7 linked regions of the Homo sapiens genome follow. The protein of the gene in region 3 interacts with the protein of the main gene of each other region in a pairwise test. Each region holds a gene or a part of one and is shown on either strand. Other genes may lie near its edges.

Region 1 (4,350 bases), on a different chromosome or scaffold from region 3:
ATCAGTATATTGCCAGTGTCCTACACAGTGCCTAATCTACTACAGGCAGTCCAATATTTGCCGAATGAATGACCCATATCATTTATTTTTAAAATGTTTGTCCTTGGAAGGAAACAGCAATTTCTTTAATAAAAAAGTGAAGCATTCTAGCTAAAGTCTTTATATAGTCTGAAGAGAAAAGAGTTTGTGAGTTATAGCCAAAAGGAGTAGCAGATTAGTAGTTTTCAAAGAGAAAACATAGAAAGATCTACCCATGCATCATATGACTAACATAAAAGTCCTAACCTAATGCACCACATATTACCTGACTTTAGAGTAGAAGAGCTAGAGATTGAGTCAATGATTGTTTTATAAAACCCATTCCTATTTTTTCCAGTTATCTCCTTATGACAGAATTATTGTCTCCTGACAATAATTCAAGGCAAACTCAAAACACAAATTCAAATTTCTTTTCTTTTCGTTTTTTTTTTTTTTTGAGACAGAATCTGTTCTGTTGCCCAGGCTGTAGTGCAGTGTCGCGATCTTGGCTCACTGCAACCTCCACCTCCCGAGTTCAAGTGATTCTTGTGTTTCAGCCTCCCAAGTAGCTGGGATTACAGGCACAAGCCACCACACCCAGCTATTTTTTGTATTTTTAGTAGATACGGGGTTTCACTATGTTGGCCAGGCTGGTCTTGAACTCCTAGCCTCAGGTGAGCCACCCACCTCGGCCTCCCAAAGTGCTAGGATTACAGCTATACGCCACTGTGCCCAGCCCAAAACTTGAATTTCTTAAGAAAAAATATTGTAGGTACATATGCAGTTTTTGAACAATTTTGCTATAAACATAGAAAATATTGGCCGGGCGCAGTGGCTTATACCACTTTTTTTTTTTAGACAAGAATCTTCCTCTGTCACCCAGGCTAGAGTGCAATGGCGCGATCTCGGCTCACTGTAACCTCTGCCTCCCAGGTTCAAGCAATTCTTATTTGGCTTATACCACTGCGCCTGGCCAGGAGGGCGAGATCAGCCTGGCTGGCCAGGAGTTCGAGACCAGCCTGGCCAACATGGCGAAACCCCATCTCTACTAAAAATACAAAAATTAGCCAGGCATGGTGGCGTGTGCCTGTAATCCCAGCTCCTCGGAGGCTGAGGCAGGAGAATAGCTTGAACCCGGGAGGCAGAGGCTGCAGTGAGCCAAGATCAATCACACCACTGCGCTCCAATCTGGGTGACAGAGCAAGACTCCATCTCAAAAAAAAAAAAAAAAAAAAGGATATATTGCCAATTACCTCTTTTTCTTGTTTTTTTTTTTTTTTTAAAAAAAACTAAAGTATAAAAATGAGGAAAATATGCATTTGCTACGGAATTACTTATATTTAGAGAAGCAGATCAAAGAAGTAGGAATTAAGGTAAAGAATATATACATACCGCATGTATTGTTATTTAAGCACTAACAAGTCACATGCATTTCAAGACATGCAGGGTTGTTCTGTGACATGAGACAAGGATATTTTGCAGAAGAAAGACTTCTTCAAGTACTACCTAAAATAAAGTTATAGCTAATGTTAGGTCTTAATAACAACTTACTTTTAAATGCTTATTTAATCAAGAGGTTGTTTGTTAAACAGTTACTTAAGGTCTACACTGCAACTTTTAAAATAATGTAATCCAAGGTATTGGATTACAATGCCTAATGTAACGCAGGCAAGGTCAGTATTAACTATGGTCCAATTAACACTTTTTTTGGGCCTCAGTTTCTTACTCTGTAAAATGAGGGTGCTGGTGGTATTACTAGTGAGATTAATCACTTTAATGTTTGTTAGAGATACCTCCAATTGAATATGAACTTGTTTCACATCAAACTTCTATATCTCTGCAGCAAGTTTCTGATTTATTAAGAGCTTAGGCAGCCTGGGTAGTCATTCATATCTAAGCATAAATTAGTTTATGAAAAAGATAAGCTAAGTGGTCCTTTGCCTGATGGCGGTGAACCCTGGATGAGCACCTGATGATGACAGATGTGTGTGCTCTAGGCAGATAGGAGAGTGGGTGCTCTAGTGGTAGGCAGAATGTGGAGGCATCTGAAGACACAACGCAAGACAGAAAGGAAAACTTTGAAAATGAGAAAGAGACTGAAAGGCAAACTCTGCCTCCAACATTTTGCCTAGAAGTGGCCTCAACTTTTGACAACATTTTTAGCACAAGTATTGCATTTGACTTAATTTATTTTCAATTTTCCTTCTCTTTCTCCTAGGTTCCTATACAAATAAAAACAGGATATATGAATTATGGTACCATGGGAGCTGTTCTGATGGGATCAAATTATTGGCAAAAAGCATTAAAAATAAAGCTGAAGTTATCTGGAAATTGTCTCTTTAGGAGTTTTAAGCCTGACTGGGTCTGACTCAAAGCACTGACACCCCCCCACCACCCGCCAATCCAGTGTGGGGCACTGATGCCCCGATTTTGCTGGAAAGAACTCTTAATGACTAAGACAACTGCCTCAAAGAAGGCATGCCACTTCCATGAAATATTTGGGAGCAATGCCAATATCTCATTGTGGAAAATTAATCTTTACTATTTCAAACCGGTGGAGTCAGCAGTGGCTCTAAATAGGGTAAGGAGGCAAAGATTCTTTCTGTATAGCCTTCAAGCAGCAACACGGAGCAAGAACCTAACTAAGGATGCAAGGTACAGCCTATCAGGCTGCCCATCCTCCTGCCTGCTTTAAAAATTTTCTTCTCTGTTCTGCTACATGCAATTTTTGTAATTTAAAATTTTAATTTTGGAAAAATTAATACATGCCTTATAAAACTTTCAAATGGTACAAAATGTTAGAGTGAAAAGAAATCTTCTCATCCTTGACCCTGAGGCCTCCTTCCCAGGAACACTTAATGTCATCAGATGACTGCATATTCTTCCAGATGTATTCTGTGTAGATACATGCATATGTGAAACTCCTCCTCTGAAATGAAAGCTCATAGAGGATTGGGAGTAGTGTCTACTTTGGTCACTGCTTTATGCCCAGTGCCTAGAACAAAGCCTGGCACTGATGCTCAATATATATCCCAAAAGTGGAATATAGTCTTGTCCACTTTTTTTTTTGAGCCAGGGTCTTGCTGTGTTGCCCAGATTGGAGTGCAGTGGCACAATCACAGCTCACCGCAGCCTCGACCTCCCAGGCTCCAGGGATCCTCCCATCTCAGCCCCCTGAGTAGTTGGGACCACAGGCGGATACCGCCACGCCTGGCTAACTTTTTAATTTTCTGTAGAGATTGTGTCTCCCTACATTGCCCAGGCTGCTTTCAGACTCCTGGGCTCAAGTGATCCTCCCACCTTAGCCTCTCAAAGTGCTGGGATTATAGGCATGAAGCCACCATGCCTGGCCTCCACTTTATTTTTAACATATTAATAAGTATAGCTCTACTTCATTCTTTTTACTGGTTACACAGTAATTCATTGTATAGATATACTATAATTTATTTAACTAATTTCCTATTGATGGATAGGCAGGTGGTTTCCAACCTTTTGCCACCCTCCCACCCAAAAATGCCTGCAGTGAATGTTCTTTTACATATACCTTTGTGCACATTCCTGGAAATGGAACTATTGGATAAGAAGGCACGTGCATTTTCACTTTTTTTTTTGAGATGGAGTCTCGCTCTGTTGCCCAGGCTGGAGTGCAGTGGCGCAATCTTGGCTCACTGCAACCTCTGCCTCCCAGGTTCGAGCGATTCTCCTGCCTCAGCCTCCCAAGTAGCTGGGATTACAGGCACACTCTACCACACCCAGCTAATTTTTGTATTTTTAGTGGAGACGGGGTTTCACCATATTGGCCAGACTGGTCTCGAACTCCTGACCTGAAGTGATCTGCCCACTTCAGCCTCCCAAAGTGCTGGAATTACAGGCATGAGCCACCACACCCGGGCCTGCATTTTCACTTTTGATAACAGTTGATAGAGAAGTTGAATGATTTCCATTCCCAGCAATAATGCTGGTTTTTCCATGCTTTTGCCAAGTTGTTTTGTGTTTGCTAATCTGATGAGTGAAATATGATGTCTCATTTTTAATTTCTCTTTATGAATAAAATTAAGTATTCTCATAGACTTAAAGGCCATTTGTAGTTTTTTGTTAGTGGGTGCTTATTTATGAATTTGGCCCATTTCTAGGGATATGTCATTTTCATTATTGGTTAGCAAGTCTTCATACATGTTACAAACATTTTTCCCGCTTATTTGCTTTACCTAGGTTTTCAGATCTTTTTGCTGTAGGATTTTTAAAATGACAAGATATTGAAAGAATAAGATCATTTCTTGCACATTTGAAGGCTTGTCCTGTATTGGGGTAATAATGACTGACAGCCCATTA
Region 2 (5,144 bases), on a different chromosome or scaffold from region 3:
GAATCGGAACCAGCAACTCAATCCCAGCCACATGTATCTATTTTTAACTCTTCAGACTATAGTTAAGTCTAGTAATTGCCCTGGTAAGAGTGGTAGCCATTCCCATTGCCTTTTGGAAAATAGGTGGGAAACATCACAATCAGGTAAGCAGCCCAAGCATAAAGCTCACTGGTGGCAGAGCCAGGAAAAAGTTCATTTCTTATCAAATAGTTCATTCTAAAATTTATGTTAAAACAGCAATTTGAATAACTGTACTTCTATAAGATTTAGCTAATATCTTACTATCTTACTAATATCTTACTGAATCTTAACTATCTTGCTAATACTTACCCTCATTGATATATCAGTTCATTTTTGACAGTGTATTTCACTCACATACCCACATGAATGTGTGTGATGAGCACATGCTCTCAGTCCTGTATGTTAACCAATCTTGTTTTCCCCCCTTTAGTATCAAAAGGTTTTGGAGGGCAGGAACCATTTTGGCCTCATCTTTTGTGAACCATCACAACACAGAACAAAGCCCTTCACAGAGTGGGAGCTCCATAGACAGCAGTGCATGGTTCTAATAGTAATCCTTGTGAAATCTGAAATTCTCAATCCCCAAATTCCTGTAATATGAATACTAGAGACCAAGGAACTTCAGTCCTCTTGCTACAGCTAACAGCAGAAAAATTAAGAACTTGTAAAAAATGGTAAATAACAAAAAGGATAGTAAATTGATCCCCAACCAGCTGCTCTGAGACACAAAACTGCTTATTTTGTATGAGATCAAATATATAAACTGGAAGGCCAACAATTCTTGACAAGAGTGTCATGATACATGTTCATGACACAAGAAGTCGTTCCTGACCACTCATTAGTAATTTTGAAACCAAAGCCAAACAAGCCCATGTCTTTCTATACTCTAAGCCGCCATGCTAAGATTGTATTTTTTTTTAAATGTCTAGTTACAGTTTCTTGTGATAACTGAAGGAGAGAAACTGTAATTTAGGACACAATCTTTCCAACCCCATGATGTTGAAACAGGCCTACTGTGCTGTTAAGGAGAGACACTTTAGAGCTGCGAAGGGAAATGTATTGGTTTCCTGACTTCTAACAGTGAAAATTTAAAGGAAGTCAGATCAGAGAAGCAAAGCGTTCTGTGGGAGCAGGGAGAAATCTGAACCAAAGGAAGACTATTTCTCTTCTCTTTCTCAGAGATAATTCTCTGTTTTATTTTGCTTGTGAAAATTTAGTGAACAGACCTATTACAGATGGAAAATAAATGGATAGAGTTCAAGCCTCCAACCCCAGGGTGTCCATATATGGCCAGGAACATCCCACCAGAAAATGATGGCTAGAGGTAATGATTAAAATAACACCTTATGTTTGGGTATCCTTGATCTAAGTGATACATTTTCACGTATCTTATTTCAGTCCTCATAACAAGCTGTGAACTAGGCCAGTGGTTCTCAGACTTAGATTTCACAGACTAGTATAATAATAACAAACTAGTGTGACCAACATAAGGATACCAACTCCTTATTTTGCCAAACAAGGACATAAAAATAAGAGTTATTGGCTGGGCGTGGTGACTCATGCCTGTAATCCCAGCACTATGGGAGGCCGAGGTGGGAGGATCACTTGAGGTCAGGAGTTCAAGATCAGCCTGGCCAACAGGGTGAAACCCTATCTCTACTAAAAATACAAAAATTAGCTGGGCACGGTGGTGGGGCACCTGTAATCCCAGCTACTTGGGAGGCTGGGGCAGGAGAATTGCTTGAGCCCAGGAGGTGGAGGCTGCAGTGAGCTGAGATCACACCACTGCACTCCAGCCTGGGCAACACAGCGAGACTCTGTCTCAAAAAAAAAAAAAAAGAGTTATTAAATTACTAACTACAACTACAGTCTATTTTCATCATCATTTCATAAAAGGGGATTTTAACACCACAAAACTGGAGAGGACATAACTTCAGAATAAAAGACAAGCCTTTAAATTGAACACACTTAACTTGGTGAAACATTTACTACATTGTTAACTTTATCATTGTCACATTTTGGTCACAGGTTGTGGAAACCTTCATCTTGAGCTAGAACTGACAGATCCCCAGATGGATGTCTGAGAACCAGTGAACTTGGCATTATCAATCCCCATTACCAGACAAAAAGACAGGCTGGGAGGTGAAATGAGTCTCCAAGATGGGGGCTTAGCTAGTGAGGGCAGAGCTAGGCTGTGAGCCCTGGTCTTCTAGATCTAAGCCCATTACAGCATAGCCCTCCTCTGGTTTTGAAGAGGCAGAATAACACATATACATCCATTAATAAGTTATCCAAAGCGTTCAATGGCCACTTACCACTCTGGTTGGTAACCAGGTGGAAAGTGCCTCTTTTCTAGTTTCTAGAACAGCCACTAGCCAGCAGTTCTCATAGATAGACAACAGAACCTGCTCCTAGGAGGAATTTTATGGTCCTTAGCCAGATCCCTTCCTGTGCTCCATTAAATGCTCCAACATGGAAAATGCTGAGCACGAAGCCTCCGCTACCCCCACAGCATTCAGTAATTATGACTATTATTTCTATTGTAGAATTTGAGTGAAAAGGGCACAAAACTTTTTCATAAATATCAAATACTTGGTTTAGGTCCCTGTGGATTCCTGTAGACATGAAAAGAGCTTAAGAAGTCAAATTGTAGTTTGAGTTTGGACATCTCTGTTTCCCCATCCTGCTGATTATTCCAGCATTCCTCTCCCTTCCAAACCTCTGCCAGTTCTTAGGTCAACTTGAAGAGGGTTTTCAGAGTTGGAGTGTAAGTCTAGCCATCCCAGCCCAAGACTGAATCTTATTGGCAACCTTTTTCCTTTTGGAGAAGCCTATATATGGCCCTTAGATTAGGCTGAGAAAGAACAATTGGGGGGAAGGTTACAAACTAATATCACCCAAGGAAAACTTGCCAATACAAGGAGTGTCCCACGGAGAAATATGTGCTCTTTCTCTCTTGGCGCTCAGCAGCAAAATGGCAACTTTCGTCTCTTTCCTTTGCTGCCTAAAAGCCCACCTCCCACTTCTCTACCCCGCCCCTACTGTGCTGCACGACTGAGCAGATATGACTGGATTGGCCCTGATGGGTAGGTTTTACTGTCCAGCAATATTTTAAGCTCCCAGCCAGACAGCTTTTATGAAGGGAGGGATGTTTGGGAAACAATGGGAGTGAGAGAATGGGAGAGCTGTGTTGGGCACTGAGGGGAGGAGGATGGGGAAAGCTGATGTGTGAAAGCTTAGCTGGGGCTTCTGTGCCTCCCAAAGTTTCTTTTAGCAGCAGACTGGGCCTGTACATCAGTAAACCTTTGGCGTCTCTCCAGAGCGCATGAGCCTAGGGGCATTTTCCCAAGGCCTTATCATCAGCTGGGAGAATCTTAATGATGTAGGGACAGTAAGTGGTCAGTTGTGTGAATCCCTCTGCCCTGAGTCACACCAAGAGTGGTTGGTCCTTTCCAAAGGACCATATTTCATTTTTTATTGGTGGTTTGCTCTTGTCTCTCAAAGCCTTCAGCAGAATTGTGGATATTAGAGGCTGGGAAGTGTAGTGGCGGAAGGAAGGATGGGGAGCATGTTGCTAATAGATACAAAAGCACAGCTAGATAGGGGGAATGGGTTCTGGTGGTCTGCAGTGCTGTAGGGTGAATATGGTTAACATTAATTAATTAATTATTTTAATTTTTATATTTTTGTGTGTGTGTGAGACAGAGTCTCGCTCTGCCACCCAGGCTGGAGTGCAATGTCACGATCTTAGCTCACTGCAACCTCTGCCTCTCAGGTTCAAGTTATTCTCCTGCCTCAGCCTCCTGAGTAGCTGGGATAACAGACACCCACAACCACGCCCAGCTAATTTTTTTTTTTCTATTTTTAGTAGAGACGGGGTTTCACCATGTTGGCCAGGCTGGCCTCAGACTCCTGACCTCAGGCGATCTGCCCGCCTTGGCCTCCCCAAATGCTGGGATTACAAGCATGAGCGACCATGCCTGGCCGTTAACTATTTTATTGTATAGTCTCAAAAAGCTAGAGGAGAGGATTTTGATTGTTCCCAACAGAAAGAAATGATAAATGTTTGAGATGCTGAATATGCTAATTATCCTGATTTGATCATTACACATTGTATACATGTATTGAAATATCACTGTGTATCACAAATACGTACAATTATTATGTGTCAACTAAACATAAAAGGAAAGAGCTTTCTAAAAAGATCAAAACAATAAAAAAGAAACACAAACAAACCTTCAGCAGGGTGGTCTCCCTCTTTGAAAGGAGCCTTAACACTCCAAAGAATTCTGGTGCCATTTGTCAAAGTAATAGCCTTTCTCACCACGTTTCACTTATAATTACATATACTTTTGAGTAGCGGAAGTTCAATCAATGTCAGCTAACATTTTTAGACTTTAGTGCCTTCATCTGTTAAATGGGGATATGATGGTTTTGCTCACCAGGAGGCTCTTGGATTAAATTCTAATGTGGCTTAATGAGGAATGATGCTTGGAGGGCATGGACATATGCTCTCTGAGGCCCACTCCCGTCCCATCATCTGGGACTGACTATTGGTAGTATAAAAAATGGTTATTTTGACTACATTTCCAAACCAAAAATAGGGGCATTTTATCCTACAAGTTTATTCGTGAAAACAATGGAGCAAAAATAGTTGAAACTTAGATTGTTTTATGAAATCTGCAATGTATGATTACTAAATTGAAGACAACTTGGAGGGCAAACTAGACAAAAAAAATCTAAGCACTGGCTTCACCACCCCACCCCCCCTTCCTGTCCTTTCTGGTGTCATGGACATATTGCATTTTGATGGGGGCAGTTTGAAGGAGGATGGTACCAATGTTGTGTGAGTCCCCAATTCCATTTTAAATAAAATGGTCACTAGCCCAAAACCTTGTTTACTTTAGATGTCTGATTTCTTTTGAACTCCCAAGTTTGAGGGCCCACACTGACTGGGACAATGCCCTATAGCAAATCCTTCAGTTAAAAATAGATGGTCAAGGCTGATCCCTGCAATATCAATAAGGTAAGAAGTCAGAGGATGAGGGGAAAAAATCCAATCATTCTTTCTTTGGGAATATTCAGTACATGCTGATTCCTGAAGCTTGCGCTCTCCCTGATAT
Region 3 (4,350 bases):
GACCTTCGTTTGCACAACAAATGCTTTCTGGCTACCTAACTCTCTCTGCCAGGTACTTCATGACCACAGTGACCAAGATGATCCCAGGGTCAAAATCCAGCCAAAGAGCAGATAACAATCAGTATAGAAAACACTGATTTAGACCAGGAATCACTAAACTGTTTCTACTCCCTGGTTTTGGAAATAAAGTATTACTGGAATGCAGCCATGCCTATTTGTTTACAGATTGTCTATAGCTGTTTTTGCAAGACAATGACAGAACTGAGTTGCTGCAACTAAGATTATAAAGCCTGCAAAGCATTAAGATCTGGCCCTTTACAGAAAAAGTTTGTCAATCTGGACCATCCATTATACAGAGAGCAGCACCCATTAAGCCTGGCAGAAATATTTTAGAACGAGACACCTGGGAGGGACTCATACAGTGGACATGGGAGAGGACAGATACCATGGGGAGAGGATTTGGACTTGTCTGAGCTTGAGGGCACTGACCCTGAGGTGGGGATGTAGGAGAAAGGACACTACGTTATGGGAATGAGGGCTGGGAGCTTCCCACGAAACATAAATGCAATGACACGGGCCAGCCCTCCCATTCTCCACTGAGAGCAGATGCATTCTCCCCTTTCCAGAGCCTTCTTGGGCACTGAGTCATGCTTGCCCACCCTGGACTTGAGGGAAATCAGTAAGCGCTCCAGTGCACACCTGAAATACCTGTGCTTTTTCATCTTCACAATGATCCTGAGACTTTGGGAGGGATCATTCCCCTTCACTAAGGCTCCCATTAAATCGGTGAATAAAATTGAGGTATTTTACAAGAAAATATGGATTTCCAGCTTCTCTGGAAGAACCTGAAGATATGGCCACACTGGGGCTGCCCTCTCTCACGGCCAGCATCAGCTGGGGCTACCTCACTGAAGGAAAGCATGGGTCCAAGCTACTGCCATCTGGCCTGCTTTGTTTCTCCATTTCTGTCCTGACTCTGGAAGTAACACCCAACAAGGTGGATTTACAGGCCTCCCATCCCTCACTTTAACCTCTTCCCTTCAAGTACATTATATTCTCGGCAAAATCATCATTGTGCCAGCCACCACACCTGGCTAACTTTTGTATTTTTAGTAGAGATGGGGTTTCACCATGTTGGCCAGGCCAGTATCAAACTCCTGACCTCAGGTGATCCACCCGCCTCGGCCTTCCGAAGTGTTGGGATTATAGGCGTGAGCCACTGTGCCCAGCTCAGACTCTATTTTTCTTCCCTTTAGCTACACACTTGTATCCACTCAGGTGTATGTCCTCCTTGGGCCACCTGACAGAAAGGGAGCCTATTCTACCTTTCCATGGATCATCAGAGGCATTTACAGGACAAATGATATATATACTCCCTAGCATCTGAGTCACTACTGTCCACTAGAATAGAAAACTCCCACTTGCTTTTTTTTCCTCTTCATTTACAACTGGCCAAGCTGTAAGATCTAGAAACATCTGAGTCCTAATAAGGAATCAGCTGACCACAAATTGTACTTGGCTCCACTTGACATTCTTAGCTGGCAAAAGAGTGTGGTAGTTAAGAGTAGAACACAGGAATAAGTCTGCCTAGGTCAAAATCATGGCCCTAAGTGACCTTGGACAAGTTACTTAAACACACTTTTGTCTCTGTTTTTCCATCTAAAAAATGAATAATGGCAGCTAACTAATATGGCTGCTGCAGAGATCAAGACACATATTACATGTAACCATACAAAATGTGTGGCTTAAGGTAGGTTGCCAAAATATTAGCAACAAGTTTTATTACTATTGCTACTCATGACAACTGGCATCACGTTCCACTGAGACAGGTAACTGAAAATGATCACATCAAAAAATCCCAAGTAAGTTTCTCAGATGAAGCTCTGCACAGAAATTTCCCATGTTTGATGAAAATGAGCTTGTAAAATCCTAATTGAGAGCTTCTTTTACTATCAATAACAAGCCTTTATTTATTTATTTTTTTAGATGGAGTTTCACTCGTTGCCCAGGCTGGAGTGCAATGGCGCAATCTCGGCTCACCACAACCTCCGCCTACTAGGTTCAAGTGATTCTCCTACCTCAGCCTCCTGTGTAGCTGGGATTACAGGTGCACACAACCATGCCTGGCTAATTTTGTATTATTAGTAGAGAGGGGGTTTCTCCATGTTGGTCAGGCTGGTCTCGAACTCCTGACCTCAGGTTATCCGCCTGCCTCAGCCTCCCAAAGTGCTGGGATCATAGGCGTGAGCCACCGCACCTGGCCAATAACAAGCCTTTTAAGTAGATTTTTCATCCTTTTTCTTTGAGACAGGGTCTCAGTCTGTCATCCAGGCTGGACTACAGGTGCCTGCCACCACGCCTGGCCAATTTTTGAGTTTTTTGTTAGAGACGGGGTTAAACCATATTGGCCAGGGTGGTGTCCAACTCCTGACCCCAAGTGATCCACCTGCCTCTGCCTCCCAATGTGCTGGGATTATAGGCGTGAGCCACGGCACCTGGCCTTTCTTTTTTTTTTTCATATCTTAAAGTGATCTTGATTTTTCTTAATAACTTGTCTGAGCTAAAGGTTTAGCGTTCCTTTTTTGTTTCAGACAGGATACTGCTCTGCTGCCCAGGCTGGAGTGCAGTGGCACTATCTCGGTTCAGTGCAACCTCCACTTCCTGGGTTCAAGTGATTTTCCTGCCGCTGCTTCCTGAGTAGCTGGGATTCCAGGCACGTGCCACCATGCCTGGCTAATCTTTGTATTTTTAGTACAGATGGCGTTTTACCATGTTGGCTAGGCTGGTCTTGAGCATCTGACCTCAACTGATCTGCCGACCTTGGCCCCCCATCCCAAAGTGCTGGGATTACAGGGATGAGCCACCATGCCCGGCCAAGGTTAAGCATTCCTAATCCAAAAACCTAAAATCTGAAATGCTCCAAAACCTGCAGCTTTTGGGAGTGCAGACACGATGCCACCAGTAGAAACAGCCGATGGTGAAATAGCACAAACTGTTCTTGTAGGGAAAAGAAAGAGATCAGACTGTTACTGTGTCTATGTAGAAGAGGAGGACATAAGAAACTCCATTTTGATCTGTACTAAGAAAATTGTTTTGCCTTGAGATGCTGTTAATCTGTAACTTTAGCGCCAACCCTATGCTCACAGAAATGTGCTGTATGGAATCAAGGTTTAAGAGATCTAGGGCGGTGCAGGATGTGTCTTGTTAACAATATGTTTACAGGCAGTATGCTTCATAAAAGTCATTGCCATTCTCCATTCTCGATTAACCAGGGGCACAATGCACTGTGGAAAGCCACAGGGACCTCTGCCCAAGAAAGCCTGGATACTGTCCAAGGCTTCCCCCTACTGAGACAGCCTGAGATGTGGCCTCGTGGGAAGGAAAAGACCTGACTGTTCCCCAGCCCGACACCTGTAAAGGGTCTGTGCTGAGGAGGATTAGGAGAGATATGCTGGCGGCAATGCTGCTCTGCTACTCTGCTACACTGAGATGTCTGGGTGGAGAGAAGCATAAGTCTGGCCTACGTGCACATCCGGGCACAGTACCTTCCCTTGAACTTATTTGTGACAGATTCCTTTGCTCGCATGTTTTCCTGCTGACCTTCTCCCCACTATCACCCTGTTCTCCTGCCGCATTCCCCTTGCCGAGATAGTGAAAATAGTAATCAATACTGAGGGAATTCAGAGACCAGTGCTGGTGCTGGTCCTCCGCATGCTGAGTGCCGGTCCCCTGGGCCCACTGTTCTTTCTCTATACTCTGTCTCTGTGTCTTATTTCTTTTCTCAGTCTCTCGTCCCACCTGATGAGAAATACCCACAGTGTGGAAGGGCTGGCCTCCTTCAGTTCTGAATCAAGGCAATCATGGTAACAGTGACAATGAAGAGGATACTGTTACCACTACAGAAAAAGTGCCTATAGACAGCACGGTGAGGATGTGGGAGGGGATTACTGTGGCACTAGAGCAGCATACATTCATAACGGAACAAGAAATCAGGCAGTTTATAGAATCCAAGAGAGACTTCTAAGATAGAAACCACAGTTAATGAGGCAAATGACTCTGGAGGAAACATTTTAAAAAGCCATCCAGCAGAACACTTCCTCATCCCTAGAGGACCCGCTTCCTGTCCTTCAACTGCTTCTAATGTTTCTTCTCACCTTAAAAAAATAAAATATGGTGTCCAGTAACCTTTTCACCAAAACAGCTGAAGACTGACAGCCTGCCGTTTTTGTTGCTGCTGCTATGGTTCAGAAGCTGATACAGGTGTTCTGGTGATCTGCTGTGCTGCTTAGTTACCCTGAACACACAATTTCTCACTGTATTAGTGGTATATCATGTTTTATACTGTTAAGT
Region 4 (4,242 bases), on a different chromosome or scaffold from region 3:
CATTTTGCAGATGAATTAAATGAAGGATTTTAAGATAAGTCATGATCCTGGCTGCAGGAGGGCAGGTCACCATTCTCCAAGAAAGGGAACCTGGCCCCTTGGGGAAGTGGCTGATTCCAGGATGAAGGCAGGCAATGAACCAGATGAGCATGGAGCATCTTGGGTTGCCAGAAAGTAAGGAATTGCTCAAAAGAGGAAGGGGCTTGCTCACAGAACACAAGTGCCAACCCGAAGCAGCTCCTAACGCCAAAGGTGGGAAAGGTGGAGCCAGAAAATAATCCAAAAAAAAAAACACACCTGTAAGTCCATACAGAAACCCATCCATCAATCATCGGCGAAGGAACAGCTCTTCTTACAGCAGAATTCCAATCAATAAACACTGTAGGAGAGAGGAAAATAGAAATCACCATTAGGCAAGCACCTAAGTATGTACAGAGATGCCATCAGCCACAGTAACATGTAAAATATCCACATTTTGAATAAGTAGGATAAAGAACATGTCAATTAATCTGGGAGCCCCTGGTTAGCACACTTGTATCCAAAACTCCAATGGCATAGGATGAATGAATTTTTCTCCGTTTTCTTGTTAATTTAAAATAATAGAGATGGGGTCTCACTATGTAGCCCAGGGTGGTTTCAAACTCCTAGGCTCAATCAGTCCTCCTGCCTCGGCCTCCCAATGGGCTAAGATTACAGGTGTGAGCCACCATGCCGGGCCTCTCCTTTTTGTTTTTTTCTTTTGAGATGGAGTCTCGCTCTGTCACCCAGGCTGGAGTGCAGCGGTGCGATCTCAATGCAACCTCTGCCTCCCGGGTTTGAGCGATTCTCCTGCCTCATCCCCCTTTTTTTTTTTTTAAATCCAATTATTGACAAATGTAACTGCTAGTGTGGTAGAAGGAAAAGTCAATATACACGGAACCTTTGACAGGGAATGAGTGAAAGGACTCTTGTGGTGAGAGAATCAGATAACTCTAGAATACACCCCTCCTAATTGAATCATTTTACCATTTTAAAACTATCATTAATGCTGTCTTTTGTAATAAATCAAAGATAAAAAGCAGTTCTGCATCTTGCACAAATAGATGCTATAGAGAGCAAGAGTTTGTATGGAAGTGACGTCAGCATCTTATCCCAGATTTCCCTAGCTCCATCGTCCACCCGCGGCCATTGAACAGAAGCACGAGCTCATCACGTACTATTATGTAGCTTTCGGTGTTCTTCTCACCACCCACAGCTCTAGATGACGTGAGAGAGGCAAAAACAAAACCATCACTGCTATGGCTACTGGTCTCCCATTCACTTTTTCTTCTAGTGAAAAAAAGAAAAGAAGCAAGCTCTCAAACATGGAAGTTCTTTTCTTCAGAATAGTTTTATTAGTTTGCATACAGTTTGTCAACACTCAACTTTTTTCTCTCCTGACACACAAATCCATTCAGCTAGAGCTTTCTTCTCCCCATATTTCACAGATCGTGACATGGTATGGATCTGCAGGCATCTCTGACTTTCGAAGCCTGAGGTTACTGCCACTACCTGTTGCCATGGCACGTTTAAGATTCCGCACTTTGGACACAAATTTCATAAGCTCCACCTCGAGTTCCATTAAGGTATTGAATGCACAGTCTTTGTTGGGGGAAGCATTTCTTTTTTTCTTTAATGGAGAGTGAAGTTGGCCGCCTCGAAGGCCAGGAGGACTCTGCTCCTGTCAGGAAAGATACTCAAGGTCAGTAATATTGTGAACTTTGTTGGTTTTGACACAGTTCGTGTTACAACAGCAGACTTGAGTAGTTGCAAGAAGACCATACTGCCCACAAAGCTGAAGATATTCGCACCCTCCCTGGCCCTTTACGGGAAGGGTTTGCCGATCCCTGCTCTCATCAGTTTGGGCACAGGATTATGAAGTGCTGGGTCTTTCTAGGGGAGAACGCACTTTCTCTCCCCTTCCTTTTCTACCTGAAAGAGTTGTTTGTGGTCACTTTGAGGACCAGCTCAAACTACCTTACATCTTTATCTCTTCAGCACAAGTCTCATATTTTGTTGGGATAATGATATCATTTCCATTTAGCTCAGGATTTTGTAGTAAGTCAAACACTAGCAAGAATTTAAAAAACAGGGGCTAGTGAATCTGGCCCTGTGAATAATTTTGACTTTCTGAAACACACCATAAGTTCTTGAATCTATCCTACATTTGAAAAAATCCATCTAACCAGAAAATCTGTGAGCCAGTAAGCAGAGGTCACTTTCCACTCTTTGTCCCAGTATCTGTGGATCTGGGGACAATTGTCTTCACTAAGGATACATCAGGAAGTGAATTTGCCAGCTTTGCCCAGGACCATGAGGTCGGTTCATTATACCCAACGGTGCCGTCTAGACTCACTAGAACATCCGTTTCCCTGAGACTCCTGAGATTGAATCAATATGGTGTAAAAAAAATGGAGCCATCCTTACCTTATTCTTCTCACTGTCTCTTTGACACTGCAGTATCACAAACGGCACAACAACAAAAAGAAGCCAGAGCCATTTGCTCCCAAGCCAGCCTTGGGTGTGCTCTGGTAGATTCTGCCGAATCCGAAAGTGCTCTCCGTATTGCACCTTCCCCTGGGGTTCGCTAGTTTTCTGTCTCAGAGAAGAGAACATAAAGGCATAGCTGCAGGTGAGGCACAGAAGCAGGACCAGGGACGATTTCAGCGTCCACATGGTGAGCAGAGATGGGGAAGGGAGTTGCTCATGACGGGTTTGCTTGCCCTCGCAACTGGGAGACTGGGCACCTGGTGCCAGGCCCTTGGTGATGTCACAGAGGCCCTGAGCTGAGGCCACTCTGGCCATTGTGATGATTTCAGGACAGAGGTTACAGGTCACAGGGGTTGCCCGGGAGGAGGACTCAAAGGGAGATGGGGGCATTTCCAGCAGGCAGTCAGAGAGAGAGGATGGGCACGACGGGGTGCCAATTCCCTGCCAGGGGACTCTTTCCAACCCTGGAGCTTTGCTGGGAGAGGCCATCATGTTTTTGTTTTTCATTTGTTTGATCCAGACATTGTGATGAGCAGAGGGAGATGCCATGTGCCCCGTGGAGCTGAGTTAAACGGGAGAGAAAGATATTAAACCACAGGCTACCTACAAATTTGGAGCCACCTATGTGGCTCAAACTAAACAAACAAAAAATTTGTTTTTGTTTTTTTTTGGGGACGGAATTTTGCTCTTGTTGCCCAGACTGGAGTGCAATGATCTTAGCTCACCGCAACCTCCGCCTCCCAGTTCAAGCCATTCTCCTGCCTCAGCCTCCTGAGTAGCTGCGATTACAGGCATCCACCATCACGCTTGGCTAATTTTGTATTTTTAGTAGAGACAGGGTATCTCCATGTTGGTCAGGCTGGTCTCTAACTTCCGACCTTAGGTGATCCACCTGCCTCGGCCTCCTAAAGTGTTGGGATTACGGGCATGAGCCACTGCGCCCGGCCCACCTATGTGTTTTGTTTGGCCTACATTGTTTTTAAAAATTGTCAGTACTTAAATATTGGGGGGCATTTCACTTTAAAACTCCACATTCTGGCTTCCTTTGAAAATATGGGAGGTCCAGAAACAATGAGTGCACACCCTCATGGAACCAGTCTCTCTGCTGCAGCCAAGTGAAACCGTCCTTTCGGTGGCCATATTCCCTCCACAGTCCCCACCACTCACTATTACCTCACACCATCATTGATCGTAGCAGTGTGTGCCCACCCTGGGTTAAGAGTATACTTTGGGCTGGGTGTGGTGGCTCACACCTGTAGTCCCAGCACTTTGGGAGGCCAAGGCAGGTGGGTCACCTGAGGTCAGGAGCTGGAGAATAGCCTGGCCAACATGGTGAAACCCCATGTCTACTAAACAAAAATTAGCCCGGCATGGTGGCATAGGCCTGTAGGCCCAGCTAGTTGGGAAGCTGAGGCAGGAGAATCACTTGGACCTGGGAGGCAGAGGTTGCAGTGAGCTGAGATCGCACCACTGCACTCTAGCCTGGGCAACAGAGTGAGACTCCATCTCAGGAAGAAAAAAAAAAAGAGAGAGAGTATACTTTGATTAAAATTGTGATAAGAACAGGAAGCTTTAGAGACTAGCATAAGGGGACTGCTCTAAACTAGGTTATGCAGGAAGCAGGAAGAGTGTCCAGAAAAAGATGGTTGAGTAGAGCAGGGGAGATGATTAAGAGTTGGTGGGTAAAATGGGAAGGGGCTGAATCCCCCAAGTAAAAAGGAACAGCTAGCTTGA
Region 5 (3,738 bases), on a different chromosome or scaffold from region 3:
ATTCGCCAGCAGAGCCCAGCTCCTCCGCTTTAAAGCAGCAATGCCTCTGGCCCCCACCCCACCCCCGCCACCCAGGCGCAGCAGGTGCTTCCCGTCCCCCCAGCCCTGACACTCAGGCACCTGCTTGCTCCTTGCAGGTGTTTCAGACTCTGCACAGCACCGGGCAGTCGTCCATGGTCCGGGACTGGGTCATGCTGTCCCTCTCCAACTTCACGCAGAGGGCCCCGGTCGCCATGGCCACGTGGAGCCTCTCCTGCTTCTTTGTCAGCGCGTCCACCAGCCCGTGGGTCGCGGCGATGTATCCTCTCTGGGTCCCTGGTGCTGGCCCCGTTTCCCTTGTCAACACCGAGGCTCATGTTTCATGATAAGGTTTTGAAACCTAACCTTTGCAAAAACCCCACAGATGCCAGGGTGACAGGCCCTCAGCCCCAGGGAAGTAAAATGCTGACAGGGGTACAGAAAGGAGCACGTCCAGACATTTGCTGACCAGGGCCTCTCAGAGGGGCCGGTGTATGGCAGGAGGGTCGCAGCTGAGGGGCCTTTCTGTGGAGGGCCTGGGTGAGGGGAGCGAGGGTGGGCGGTGGTCTCTGCAGACGTCCCGCCCACTCGCGGGCTCTGTGTGGCTGGGCTTCTCCTGACACTGCTTCTCATTAGCTTTGGTCATTGTGCCTCGATCGCCCTCTCGGGGAAAGGCTTAAGTAAAGATCCAGTTCCCACCCCCAGATGCTGGCTGCCAGGAGTTTCCCTTTCCACAGCCCTTCCCCAAGACAGACCACAAGAGCCTCCAAGCAGCACAGTTGTCCTGGTGCTGACAGCACAGCCTTGCCCGGCGTGCCTGGCACGGCTCTGCCCTCACTGCATTGGAGCAGGGCTAGTGGAGGCCAGCGGAAGCACCGGCCACCAGCGCTGCACAGGAGCCAGGCCAGGTGAGTGCTGCCGAGTGGGTGCCCTGCCTGCAGGGCATCCAGCCAGCCAAGGGTTGCAGGAATGGAGGTGGAGGCGCTGATGCAGCTGGAGGCATCCAGGTGGCCCTTCCGGGGCTCTGCTCGCTCTCCAGGCTCCCTGGACCCCTTTGTAGACTGTTTCAGGAGAGGAACTCCCAGGTGAGGACAGGGAGGCAGCATTCCCCTCATTTGCCGGCCTTTTTCCTTAACTCCTGCACCAGCCTCCCACATGTCATCAGCAGGATGGGCAAGCTGGAGCAGGTGGACGTGAACCTTTTCTGCCTGGTCGCCACAGACTTCTACAGACACCAGATAGAGGAGGAGCTCGACCGCAGGGCCTTCCAGTCTGTGCTTGAGGTGGTTGCAGCCCCAGGAAGCCCATATCACCGGCTGCTGACTTGTTTACGAAATGTCCACAAGGTCACCACCTGCTGAGCGCCATGGTGGGAGAGACTGTGAGGCGGCAGCTGGGGCCGGAGCCTTTGGAAGTCTGCGCCCTTGTGCCCTGCCTCCACCGAGCCAGCTTGGTCCCTATGGGCTTCCGCACATGCCGCGGGCGGCCAGGCAACGTGCGTGTCTCTGCCATGTGGCAGAAGTGCTCTTTGTGGCAGTGGCCAGGCAGGGAGTGTCTGCAGTCCTGGTGGGGCTGAGCCTGAGGCCTTCCAGAAAGCAGGAGCAGCTGTGCTGCACCCCATGTGGGTGACCAGGTCCTTTCTCCTGATAGTCACCTGCTGGTTGTTGCCAGGTTGCAGCTGCTCTTGCATCTGGGCCAGAAGTCCTCCCTCCTGCAGGCTGGCTGTTGGCCCCTCTGCTGTCCTGCAGTAGAAGGTGCCGTGAGCAGGCTTTGGGAACACTGGCCTGGGTCTCCCTGGTGGGGTGTGCATGCCACGCCCCGTGTCTGGATGCACAGATGCCATGGCCTGTGCTGGGCCAGTGGCTGGGGGTGCTAGACACCCGGCACCATTCTCCCTTCTCTCTTTTCTTCTCAGGATTTAAAATTTAATTATATCAGTAAAGAGATTAATTTTAACGTAACTCTTTCTATGCCCGTGTAAAGTATGTGAATCGCAAGGCCTGTGCTGCATGCGACAGCGTCCGGGGTGGTGGACAGGGCCCCCGGCCACGCTCCCTCTCCTGTAGCCACTGGCATAGCCCTCCTGAGCACCCGCTGACATTTCCGTTGTACATGTTCCTGTTTATGCATTCACAAGGTGACTGGGATGTAGAGAGGCGTTAGTGGGCAGGTGGCCACAGCAGGACTGAGGACAGGCCCCCATTATCCTAGGGGTGCGCTCACCTGCAGCCCCTCCTCCTCGGGCACAGACGACTGTCGTTCTCCACCCACCAGTCAGGGACAGCAGCCTCCCTGTCACTCAGCTGAGAAGGCCAGCCCTCCCTGGCTGTGAGCAGCCTCCACTGTGTCCAGAGACATGGGCCTCCCACTCCTGTTCCTTGCTAGCCCTGGGGTGGCGTCTGCCTAGGAGCTGGCTGGCAGGTGTTGGGACCTGCTGCTCCATGGATGCATGCCCTAAGAGTGTCACTGAGCTGTGTTTTGTCTGAGCCTCTCTCGGTCAACAGCAAAGCTTGGTGTCTTGGCACTGTTAGTGACAGAGCCCAGCATCCCTTCTGCCCCCGTTCCAGCTGACATCTTGCACGGTGACCCCTTTTAGTCAGGAGAGTGCAGATCTGTGCTCATCGGAGACTGCCCCACGGCCCTGTCAGAGCCGCCACTCCTATCCCCAGGCCAGGTCCCTGGACCAGCCTCCTGTTTGCAGGCCCAGAGGAGCCAAGTCATTAAAATGGAAGTGGATTCTGGATGGCCGGGCTGCTGCTGATGTAGGAGCTGGATTTGGGAGCTCTGCTTGCCGACTGGCTGTGAGACGAGGCAGGGGCTCTGCTTCCTCAGCCCTAGAGGCGAGCCAGGCAAGGTTGGCGACTGTCATGTGGCTTGGTTTGGTCATGCCCGTCGATGTTTTGGGTATTGAATGTGGTAAGTGGAGGAAATGTTGGAACTCTGTGCAGGTGCTGCCTTGAGACCCCCAAGCTTCCACCTGTCCCTCTCCTATGTGGCAGCTGGGGAGCAGCTGAGATGTGGACTTGTATGCTGCCCACATACGTGAGGGGGAGCTGAAAGGGAGCCCCTCCTCTGAGCAGCCTCTGCCAGGCCTGTATGAGGCTTTTCCCACCAGCTCCCAACAGAGGCCTCCCCCAGCCAGGACCACCTCGTCCTCGTGGCGGGGCAGCAGGAGCGGTAGAAAGGGGTCCGATGTTTGAGGAGGCCCTTAAGGGAAGCTACTGAATTATAACACGTAAGAAAATCACCATTCCGTATTGGTTGGGGGCTCCTGTTTCTCATCCTAGCTTTTTCCTGGAAAGCCCGCTAGAAGGTTTGGGAACGAGGGGAAAGTTCTCAGAACTGTTGGCTGCTCCCCACCCGCCTCCCGCCTCCCCCGCAGGTTATGTCAGCAGCTCTGAGACAGCAGTATCACAGGCCAGATGTTGTTCCTGGCTAGATGTTTACATTTGTAAGAAATAACACTGTGAATGTAAAACAGAGCCATTCCCTTGGAATGCATATCGCTGGGCTCAACATAGAGTTTGTCTTCCTCTTGTTTACGACGTGATCTAAACCAGTCCTTAGCAAGGGGCTCAGAACACCCCGCTCTGGCAGTAGGTGTCCCCCACCCCCAAAGACCTGCCTGTGTGCTCCGGAGATGAATATGAGCTCATTAGTAAAAATGACTTCACCCACGCATATACATAAAGTATCCATGCATGTGCATATAGACACATC
Region 6 (4,350 bases), 180 kb from region 3:
AATTCCAATTACATGTTTGTTAGATCTTTCACCATATCCCACACATCTCTTATGGTGTTTTTCTGTATTTTTCTTTCTTTTTATCGCATATTTATCCAGATACTTTCAAATGACTGTCTTCTTGTTCACTAATTCTCTGTTCTGCTTCTAATCTGCTATAAATCTATTTACTGAATTCTTCATTTCAGTCAGTGCGATTTTTGGTTCTAGAGTTTCCATTTGACTCTATTTTATGAATTCCAGGTTTTTGCTGAAGTTCTCATCCTTTCCCTTTTTTCTTGAAGATATTAATTATAGTTACCTTTTAAAAATTCCTATCCAATCACTCTAATTTCTGAATCACCTGTGGGTCTATTTCTATTGTATATTGTTTCTCTTGGTTGCTAGTCAGTTGTCTCAATGGAAAGACCAAGGTATTTACCAAGGCCTCTCAAATCTCTGTCTCCCCAGCACTGAGGAGCTGCTGAATTCTCTGATCAGCTCTTTGGCTTTTCAGTTGCTGTTTTCTACTGGGTGTCTTGGAGTACTGACCTAGGCATTCGTGTCTTAAGAGTCAGCCAAAGAGTAGAGGGGGACTTCTATGTAGGTTTAAGGGTACCTCTTCTTCAATTCCCTACTCTCTAACATTTTGCTCTTAATTTCTAGCCATGCTGGCTGCTCTCATATCTGGAATGCTATCTCCTCAGCACAGGAAAACTGTTCCTAGAAAGGTAATCATTTTTTAGGGATGGGTCTTGCTATGTTGCCCAGGCTGGCCTCAACCTCCTGGGCTCAAGTGATCCTCCCCTCCCACCTCAGCCTCTCAAGTAGCTGAGACTACAAGAACATGCCATCATGCCTAGCTAATAATTTTACTTTTAAAGAGGGTACAATTCTTTCTAGTACTGTCATTACTAGAGACAGTTATTCCTAGTGCTGTCACTACTAGAGACAGTTATTCTTAGTATTGTCATTACTATTCTCCCACCCCAAACACAGTTCTACTCTTTGAGAATAGGAACAAGGGAAGAAGTCACTGGTGATAAAATGCGTATGTGAGTGCTTTGTAAATCTCTGTTTAGCTTCATCAATTCAATCTCCCCAAATAGGTTTTCTCTCCGTTTATTAAAAAACAAAAACATAGTTTGTTCACAGGCATGGGGCCTTCAGTTCTCTGGAGAACTGAGTGAGTAAGGAAGTGCCACATGCTCACCTCTTTAGGGAGGTCCACTGGACTTCCCTACCCAGCAGGACAATAGCCTGCTCACTCAGGTAAGGCTTGGAGAAGGTTGTCAGAGCCTGTGAGAACTCAGTTCAGGACAGCCAGAAGGCTGGGCAGAGTGGATTGCAGCACCCATTCATGTCCTCGGTCGTTTAACCTCTTGAGACTCATCCACCAAGCCTCACCTTCTCTTAGCCGATCCCGTGTGCTCTTCTGGACATGGAGGCAGACTCTGACCTCTCCGGCTTCCTTGCCTTTCACCACCTGATCATTACACTCAAATACATTCCTTGCCACTTCCCTGGGATTGAACTCCATGATTGCCTTGACTCTCAGTACTGGCTGGGACCTAAAGGGACACCAGAAAACCATCAGGGACCTTCAAACAGGAAACATTCCTTCAAGGGAGAATGTCCGGTTGACTCCAAAAGGCATTCTCACCTGAGCAGCAGCACGTGCCCCTGGGCTCCTACAGTCAGGTCTACCAGTCCATCCATTGTGAGGTCCTGGCCCCCACTCAGTGACTGACCAAAATACTGGAGCCTGGGAGAGAGCTTGGAGCCTGCTATCCGCTGAGGGTAAAAAAGAGGTGTGGAGAGAGAAAGGGGTAGGAAAGACAGGAGATGTATAACTCAGTCATCCAGCATGGCCCAGACAGAGGTTCTCTAAGCTCTACTCAAGTCTCATCTCTTGCAACTAACCAAGGAACTAGGACAGCTTAGAACTTATCAAGGAATTATTCACCTTTAGACCACAACCTCAAGAGGATACCTACAATTTCTTTTTTAAAAAAACTTTTAAAATAAAAACGGGGGTCTCACTTTGTGGCCCAGGCTGGTCTTGAACTCCTGGGCTCAAGCGATTCTGCCCTGTCAGCCTCTCAAGTGCTAGGATTATAGGTGTGAGCCGCCACGCCCAACCCCAATTTCTATTAATTACCTGCATTTCCCTGCATACAGGGAAAAGTAAAAGTATATTATTTGGCTCAGCTGAATTTCATTTACGTAGTCAGAATAATGCAAACACTGAATGTTGATCTAAACAAAATGATCACATAAACATGAGGCGTGAATGGGGGGTAAAAGAGTGCTACTATGTGGCAAAAGGAAAACTGAAAAAGAGATCAATCTCCACCTTCCATGGTGGGAAGTCAGTGGTAAAACAAAAATCAAAAAGTAGCAAAATTATTATTATGTAATTGGAACAAATAGAGAATTGAAAGAGCTGAAAGTGGTTCCCTCAAGAGCAAGGGAAATGAAGCCAAAACCATCGTGTATGTGGAAATTGTTGTTTTTTAATAGTGAGCTTTTTGGAACTATTTTGACTCTTTAAAGTATGTGCAAGAGTAATATTGAAAAAAATGACAGCCAAATAATAAATTTTAAAGAAATTTTAAAAGTGATTTTGTCATGTCCTTAATGCAAGTGAATTGGACACTTTTAATTATGGTATAAAAGTTATAAGACAAAGATATTAAAAATAACTATAGCTAAAATTATGTTACTGGATACACAATATAAATAACTGTAAATTGTGAATCAATAACGTAAAACGTGTAGTGGGGAATAAAAGTATAGAGTGCATGTGATTTAAGTTCAGTTGTTATCAGCTTAAAATAGACCATGATAATTATGAGATGTTTTGTGGAAACCACAAAGAAAATACCTTTAGAAGTTATATACACAAAAAAAGGGTCAGACGCGGTGGCTCACGTGGCTTACACCTGTAATCCCAGCACTTTGGGAGGCTGAGGTGGGCGGATCACGAGGTCAGGAGATCAAGACCATCCTGGCTAACGTGGTGAAACCCCATCTCTATTAAAAATACAAAAAATTAGCCAGGAGAGGTGGTGGGCACCTGTAGTCCCAGCTACTCGGGAGGCTGAGGCAGAAGAATGGCCTGAACCCGGGAGGCGGAGCTTGCAGTGAGCCGAGATCGCACCACTGCACTCCAGCCTGGGTGACAGAATGAGATTCCGTCTCAAAAAAAAAAAAGTACAAAAAGAGAACAAAATGAAAGCATATTAATACAAAAATTAACAACAATAAAACACAAAGGAAGACAGCAAGAGAAGAAAAGAGGGACAAAAGACCTACATGACTAACAGAAAACAATTAACAAAATGGCAGTAGTAAATCCTTCTCTATCAATAATTACTTTAAATGTAAACAGAAGCAAACTCTCAAAACAGAGTGGCAGAATTAATAAAAATACAAAATCCAATTATATGCTATCTACAAGATACCCACTTTGTATTTACTGACACATAGGCTAAAAGTAAAGGAGTAGAAAATGCTATTCCATTAAAATGGTAACCAAAAGAGAGCAGGATGACATGCTAATATCAGACAAAATAGACTTTAAGTCAAAAAACAAATAATGATATTATATAATGATGAAATGGCCATTTCACCAGGAGTTACAACAATTAATTATATACACACCCATCAGACATCTGAATATATAAAGCTAATAATGACAGAACTGAAGGGAGAAATAGACAGCAATTCAATAGTAAGAAACTTCAAAATCCTACTTTCAATAGCAAATAGAACAACTAGACAAAAAAAAAACCCAAGGGAGAATGGACCAAATGGACTTAACAGACATATACAAAATACACAAGCCAACTACTGCAGAATATACATTCTTCTCAAGTGCACATGGACCATTCCCCAGGACAGACCACATGTTAGGTCACAAAACAAGTCTTAACAAATTTGAAATGATTTAAATTATATCAAGAATCTTTTCCAACCACAATGGAATGAAACTAAAAACAATACCAGAAGAAAAACTGGAAAAAAACATACATATGTAAAAATTAAACAATACACCATTGAACAACTAATGGATAAAAAAATAAATTAGAAAATAACATGAGATAAATGAAAACAAAAACACAATATACCAAACTTAATGGGAGGCAGCAAAAGCAGTACTAAAGGAAAGTTCGGGATAAACACCTAATTTTAAAACAAAAAGACAAATTTCAATTACAAAACCTAACTTTACACCTCAAGAAATGAGAAATAAAAGAACAAACTAAACCTAAAGTTAGTAGAAGGAAGAAAATAATAAAGATTACAGAAAAATAAATCAAATAGAGAATAGAAAAAAATCAATGAAATTAAGTTGATTTTTCAAAA
Region 7 (4,694 bases), on a different chromosome or scaffold from region 3:
CTCTCTTTCTTTCCTTCTTTCTCTCTTTCTTTCTTTCTCTCTCTTTCCTTCTTTCTTTCTTTCCTTCCTTCTTTCTTTCTCTCTCTCTCTCTTTCCTTCTTTCTCTCTTTCTTTCTCTCTTTCTTTCTTTCCTTCCTTCTTTCTTTCTTTCTCTCTCTCTCTTTCTTTCCTTCTTTCTCTCTTTCTTTCTTTCTCTCTTTCCTTCCTTCTTTCTTTTCCTTCCTTCCTTCCTTCCTTCCTTCCTTCCTTCCTTCCTTCCTTCCTTCCTTCCTTCCTTCCTTCTGTTTTTTGAGACAGAGTCTCACTCTGTCACCCAGGCTGGAGTGCAGTGGTGTAATCTCGGCTCACTGCAACCTCTGCCTCCTGGCCTCAAGTGATTGTCCTGCCTCAGCCTCCCAAGAAGCTGGGTTTACAGGTGCATGCTGCCATATGCGGCTAATATTTGTACTTTTAGTAGAGACAAAGTTTCACCATGTTGGCCAGGCTGGTCTCAAACTCCTGACCTCAAGTGATTCTCTTGCCTCGGCATCCCAAAGTGCTGGGATTATAGGCATGAGCCACTGCGCCCAGCCAGTTTCTGTCTTTGTAAAGGGCCACAACACATAAACCGACAGTGTGTTGGTTGCACTGAAATTGCATAAGCAGGCAGAGGAATGTGCTGTGTAGGAAAGATGTATATCCAAAGAGGCTTCTGAAGGGGACAAGGATGTAAAAAGTTGAAGAGATCCTGCATTAGCTAAGATCGAGGAGCATCGGGTGCCCACTGTGAGTCACCTGCCCAATCATTGACTCCAAGTATCGTAATCTATACTTTTCAAGAAGTCTTCTTTACTGGGGAGAGGATGCACTCACACAGATACTCACTGTGCTTTGCATTTACTTCTGTTCCTTATCACAGCCTGTTTGCATTTGTCCTGCTCAGACAGCCTCATCTGACTGGGCCAGGTGACCACAGGTGACACACAGATGGAGAACAGCAGAGTGGCTTAGGGGCATGGGTGTCAGAGTCAACTGACACCAGCTTCTGGTCCCACTTCAATCGCCCACCAGCTATGGGATCTCGGGTAGGAGATGTCACCTCTCTGGGCCACTCCTTCATCTGAAACTGGGGATAATGCTGGTACCTCTCACAGGGCTATTGAGAGATAGAAGGAGATGATGTGTCAGGCCAAGTCCTTTAGACAGGGCAGCTGTTATTTTCATCCCTGCAAGCCAGATCCTCTCCCAGCATCCAGGCATCCTGGTGTTTGGCCCTTTTCCTCCAGAGTCTGGTGTTTTCTCCTTCCATCCACCAGTCCCACCCGGCCCAAGCACACCACCAGAACAAAACAGGAGAAGAAGGAAACACTGTTCTCTTTTGCTTGCTTCCACATTTATTTGGGTAATTTTTCTTCTGTCATTGTTCATAAATGTCTCTGATGATCCACATTTATTGAGCAATGGGAACTTTCTGGAAAAGGCACTGTGGGAGCAGAATGCGGCCTCATCCCTGGAGCCCTGTCTCCCCCGCTCCTGACTCGCTGGCTGGGAGCAGCTCTGAGGATGGGGTTCTCCCCTCTCCTGCCCCTGCCACTCACTGGGCAGCCCCCTCAGACCTGGGCACTGCTCTTAGCTCCTCTGCCACCCTCAAGAAAACACAGGAGCTGCCTGCTGCTATGAGGACCTCATTGTTCTCCAGAGCAGCCTCTCACCCTGACCCCTTCCCAGAGCCCAATCCATAGTGTGTGGGTGGATGGGGATGGAGGTGAGATCGAGAGCTGGGCTTTAGCGCGCATACCCTTAGGGAGGCTAGATGTCTACTCTGCCCCCAAGCCCCATCGGGCCCCAGCTCGCCACTCCAAGTCCCTCCTGGCGTGAGCGAGGAAGCGCCCTGAGGATGACACGCCAGCTACACCCTCCTCCCCCGGAGGACCTAGTTTTCAGCACAGGCCACCTGGCCACCAGTTCCACAGCCCTGTGAGTGTTCACTGGTCTTTCTTTCAGCTGGTCGGTCCGCTCTCTGCTCCTCCCCTCCCTTCTGCTCCTTCAGCTCCATGCTGCTCTCCTGCTGCCACTGGCCCCAGAGCCCACACAACCTCCTCAGCAGCTCATGAAAGTCGGCTTGGAACCCGGAGGAGGAGAAGTAGTAGACAAAGGGGTCGACACAGGAGTTCAGGGTGCTGAGAAGCGTCACGTAGATCCTCCACACCGGGCTTTCACCGCAGATATAGCCCACGACATGGGACACGTTGTAGGGCCCAAAGCAGACAAGGAAGTTGAGCAGCGTGGCCGCCACCAGCCCCGCCACCCTCCTCTGCCGGCGGTGGCTGCCCCCTCTGCCGAGGATCCACACCAGGCGGCTGTAGCAGTAGCTGGTGATGATCAGCGGGACCACAAAGAGGACCACAGCCATCTCCAGCCGCACGGGCAGGAGGATGGCTAGCTGGTCCTTCCAGAACTCCAGGTAGCAGGTCCCATTGGTGCCCTGGCTGTGGGAGATGTCCCCTGAGAATTCTATGACGTAGACCACGCTGCAGTGAGCAGAGGCCAACAGCCAGCAGGCCACACTCACCAGACCTGCCTGCCCCAGCCTCGGCCGGGTCTTGTACCACAGTGGGTGGGCCACACTCAGGAAGCGTTCAATGCTCACAGCTGCCAGGAAGAGGGCGGTGAGATAGATGGTGGTGAAGAAGATGAATCCAGAGAGTGGGCAGAGGATGAAGGGCAGGGGCCAGTGCATGCCATTGGCTGCCTCCACCATGCGGAAAGGCAGGAACAGCAGCAGGAGCAGGTCCGAGGCGGTCAGGTTGAGCAGGAGCACGTCCACGGCCACCGGGCGGCACCGCAGCTTGCCCACGAAGACCACCAGGGCCAGCAGGTTGAGGGGGAGCCCCACCAGGAAAGTGAGAAGGTACACCGAGAAGACGAACCAGTGATTGCCGGAGAAGTAGGACTGGTCGGGGCCTGTATCCATGGTGGTGGCCACTGGTGAGAGAGAGTAACATGGAGTTGGTAGTGGGGGCCCTAACGGCCTCTGGCCAGCAGCATCTCCCCTAAAAGGGCACGAGGTCACTACGCCCACCCCTCTTGTCTCTGGGTGCCTTCCAGGCGGGGTCAGCCTGCCTGTCTTCCTGAGCATGCCCTGTCCCCTGTCCCTTCCCCAGCAGAGAAGCACCAAGGTGCTCCTCCACCCAGCCCCTCGGGCCCAGGCTCACCTGCTTCTTTGAGACCCCAAATGCTCTGCCGCACAGCACCTTGCTGTCTCTCCAGACCTAGTGCAGTTGGCTATTTATCCGGCAGAACTGATAAAGACCTGGCCGTGCCCATGACATCACTCACTGTTGAGCAGTGGCACAAAGATGCCTTGAGCTCCGTTGCCAGGGCTGGTCAGTATGCAAAAAGGGGAACAAATTCCACAACTGCGTGCCTCCCTCCTTGCGCAGCCTCAGCTGGGATGCTCCAAACAGGCCCCAGCTGACGTCTTCTTCCCCTCCCCTCTCTTCCACTTGAATTTTGTCTGATTCTCTAGAATGGCACTTATCCAGTTTGCCTTTTAAGGGCACAAAGCATGAGCCAGTGACAGACTGGACTCCGTGAGGTCTGTTCCTTCCTGACTTTGTGATGTGGGGGAAGAGATGTGTCTCTTCTTCCTCCCCTACAGAACAGGGATTGTCATAGTACCTGTACCATATTTCAAAGCATGAACACATGCAGATTAAAACATATATACAGGTAGATTAAAATGTTAATAATATAGGTCAATTGCTTTTTGAAAATATTTATTTTAGATTCGGGAGCACATGTGCAGGTTTGTTACATGGGTATATTGCATAATACTGAGGTTTGGGCTTCTATTGAACCCATTACCAAAATTGTGAACATAGTACCCAATAGGCAGTTTTCCCACCCTTGTCCTCCGCCCTCCCTCCCCCACTTTGGAGTCCCCACTGTCTATGGTTTCCATCTTTAATGTTTGCGTGTACCCATTGTTTACCTCCCACTTAAAAGTGAGAACATACAGCATTTGATTTTCTGTTTCTGTGTTAATTCACTTAGGATCATTCACTTAGGCCTCCAGCTGCATTTATGTTGCAGCAAAGGACATGATTTCATTCTTTTTTATAGCTGCATAGTATTTCGTGATGTGTATGTACCATTTTTTCTTTATCTAGTCCACCATTGATGGGCACCTAAGTTGATTCCATCACTTTGCCATTGTGAATAGTGCTGTGACAAACATACACATGCAGGTGTCTTTTTGGTAGAATGATTCCATTTTATGAAAAATGACATTGATAATTTGGTAGGAATTGGGTGGAATCTGTAGATTGCTTTGAGCAGTATGGACATTTTAATGATATTGATTCTTCTAATCCATGAACATGGAATGTTTTTCATTTATTTGTGTTTTTTAGTTCTCCTTGTAGAGATCTTTCACTTTCACTTCCTTGGTTAGATGTATTCCTAGGTATTTTATTTTTGTGTGTGGCTATTGTAATTGGGATTCTGTTCTTTATTTGGCTCACAGCTTGACAATTGTTGGTATATAGTAATGCTACTGATTTTTATACACTGATTTTGCATCCTGAAACTGCCAGTCATTTATCAGGTCTAGGAGTATTTTGGAGGAATCTGTAGGGTTTTCTAGGTATAGAATCATATCATCAGTGAACAGAGATAATTTGACTTCCCCTTTCTATTTGGATGCCTTTTAT

Evidence for each region.
Region 1: the proteins of RUSF1 (region 3) and FKBP7 interact in binary tests that used the Homo sapiens proteins (3 or more experiments, as listed by UniProt).
Region 2: the proteins of RUSF1 (region 3) and GJA8 interact in binary tests that used the Homo sapiens proteins (3 or more experiments, as listed by UniProt).
Region 4: the proteins of RUSF1 (region 3) and FAM209A interact in binary tests that used the Homo sapiens proteins (3 or more experiments, as listed by UniProt).
Region 5: the proteins of RUSF1 (region 3) and HTT interact in binary tests that used the Homo sapiens proteins (3 or more experiments, as listed by UniProt).
Region 6: the proteins of RUSF1 (region 3) and ITGAM interact in binary tests that used the Homo sapiens proteins (3 or more experiments, as listed by UniProt).
Region 7: the proteins of RUSF1 (region 3) and GPR42 interact in binary tests that used the Homo sapiens proteins (3 or more experiments, as listed by UniProt).

The regions. Positions count from the first base shown.
Region 1 is NC_000002.12:178,471,619-178,475,968, forward strand, and holds part of FKBP7 (peptidyl-prolyl cis-trans isomerase FKBP7 isoform a precursor), read right to left. Parts: intron 2,350-4,350; exon of another isoform or gene 2,237-2,349; intron 1,525-2,236; exon of another isoform or gene 1,411-1,524; intron 1-1,410. UniProt on the Homo sapiens protein: PPIases accelerate the folding of proteins during protein synthesis.
Region 2 is NC_000001.11:147,900,651-147,905,794, reverse strand, and holds the start of GJA8 (gap junction alpha-8 protein), read right to left. Parts: upstream 3,001-5,144; 5' UTR 2,934-3,000; intron 1-2,933.
Region 3 is NC_000016.10:31,501,699-31,506,048, forward strand, and holds part of RUSF1 (RUS family member 1), read right to left. Parts: intron 1-4,350.
Region 4 is NC_000020.11:56,523,261-56,527,502, reverse strand, and holds FAM209A (protein FAM209A precursor), read right to left. Parts: upstream 2,760-4,242; 5' UTR 2,695-2,759; coding exon 2,446-2,694; intron 1,721-2,445; exon of another isoform or gene 1,700-1,720; coding exon 1,433-1,699; 3' UTR 1,351-1,432; downstream 1-1,350. UniProt on the Homo sapiens protein: May play a role in sperm acrosome biogenesis.
Region 5 is NC_000004.12:3,238,681-3,242,418, forward strand, and holds part of HTT (huntingtin), read left to right. Parts: intron 1-137; coding exon 138-298; intron 299-1,165; coding exon 1,166-1,379; 3' UTR 1,380-3,738.
Region 6 is NC_000016.10:31,318,664-31,323,013, reverse strand, and holds part of ITGAM (integrin alpha-M isoform 2 precursor), read right to left. Parts: intron 1,774-4,350; coding exon 1,643-1,773; coding exon of another isoform or gene 1,639-1,642; intron 1,551-1,638; coding exon 1,387-1,550; intron 1-1,386.
Region 7 is NC_000019.10:35,369,619-35,374,312, reverse strand, and holds GPR42 (G-protein coupled receptor 42), read right to left. Parts: upstream 3,246-4,694; 5' UTR 3,195-3,245; intron 2,965-3,194; 5' UTR 2,954-2,964; coding exon 1,913-2,953; 3' UTR 1,351-1,912; downstream 1-1,350. UniProt on the Homo sapiens protein: G protein-coupled receptor that is activated by short chain fatty acids (SCFAs), such as propionate. Hence may play a role in the regulation of whole-body energy homeostasis and/or in intestinal immunity.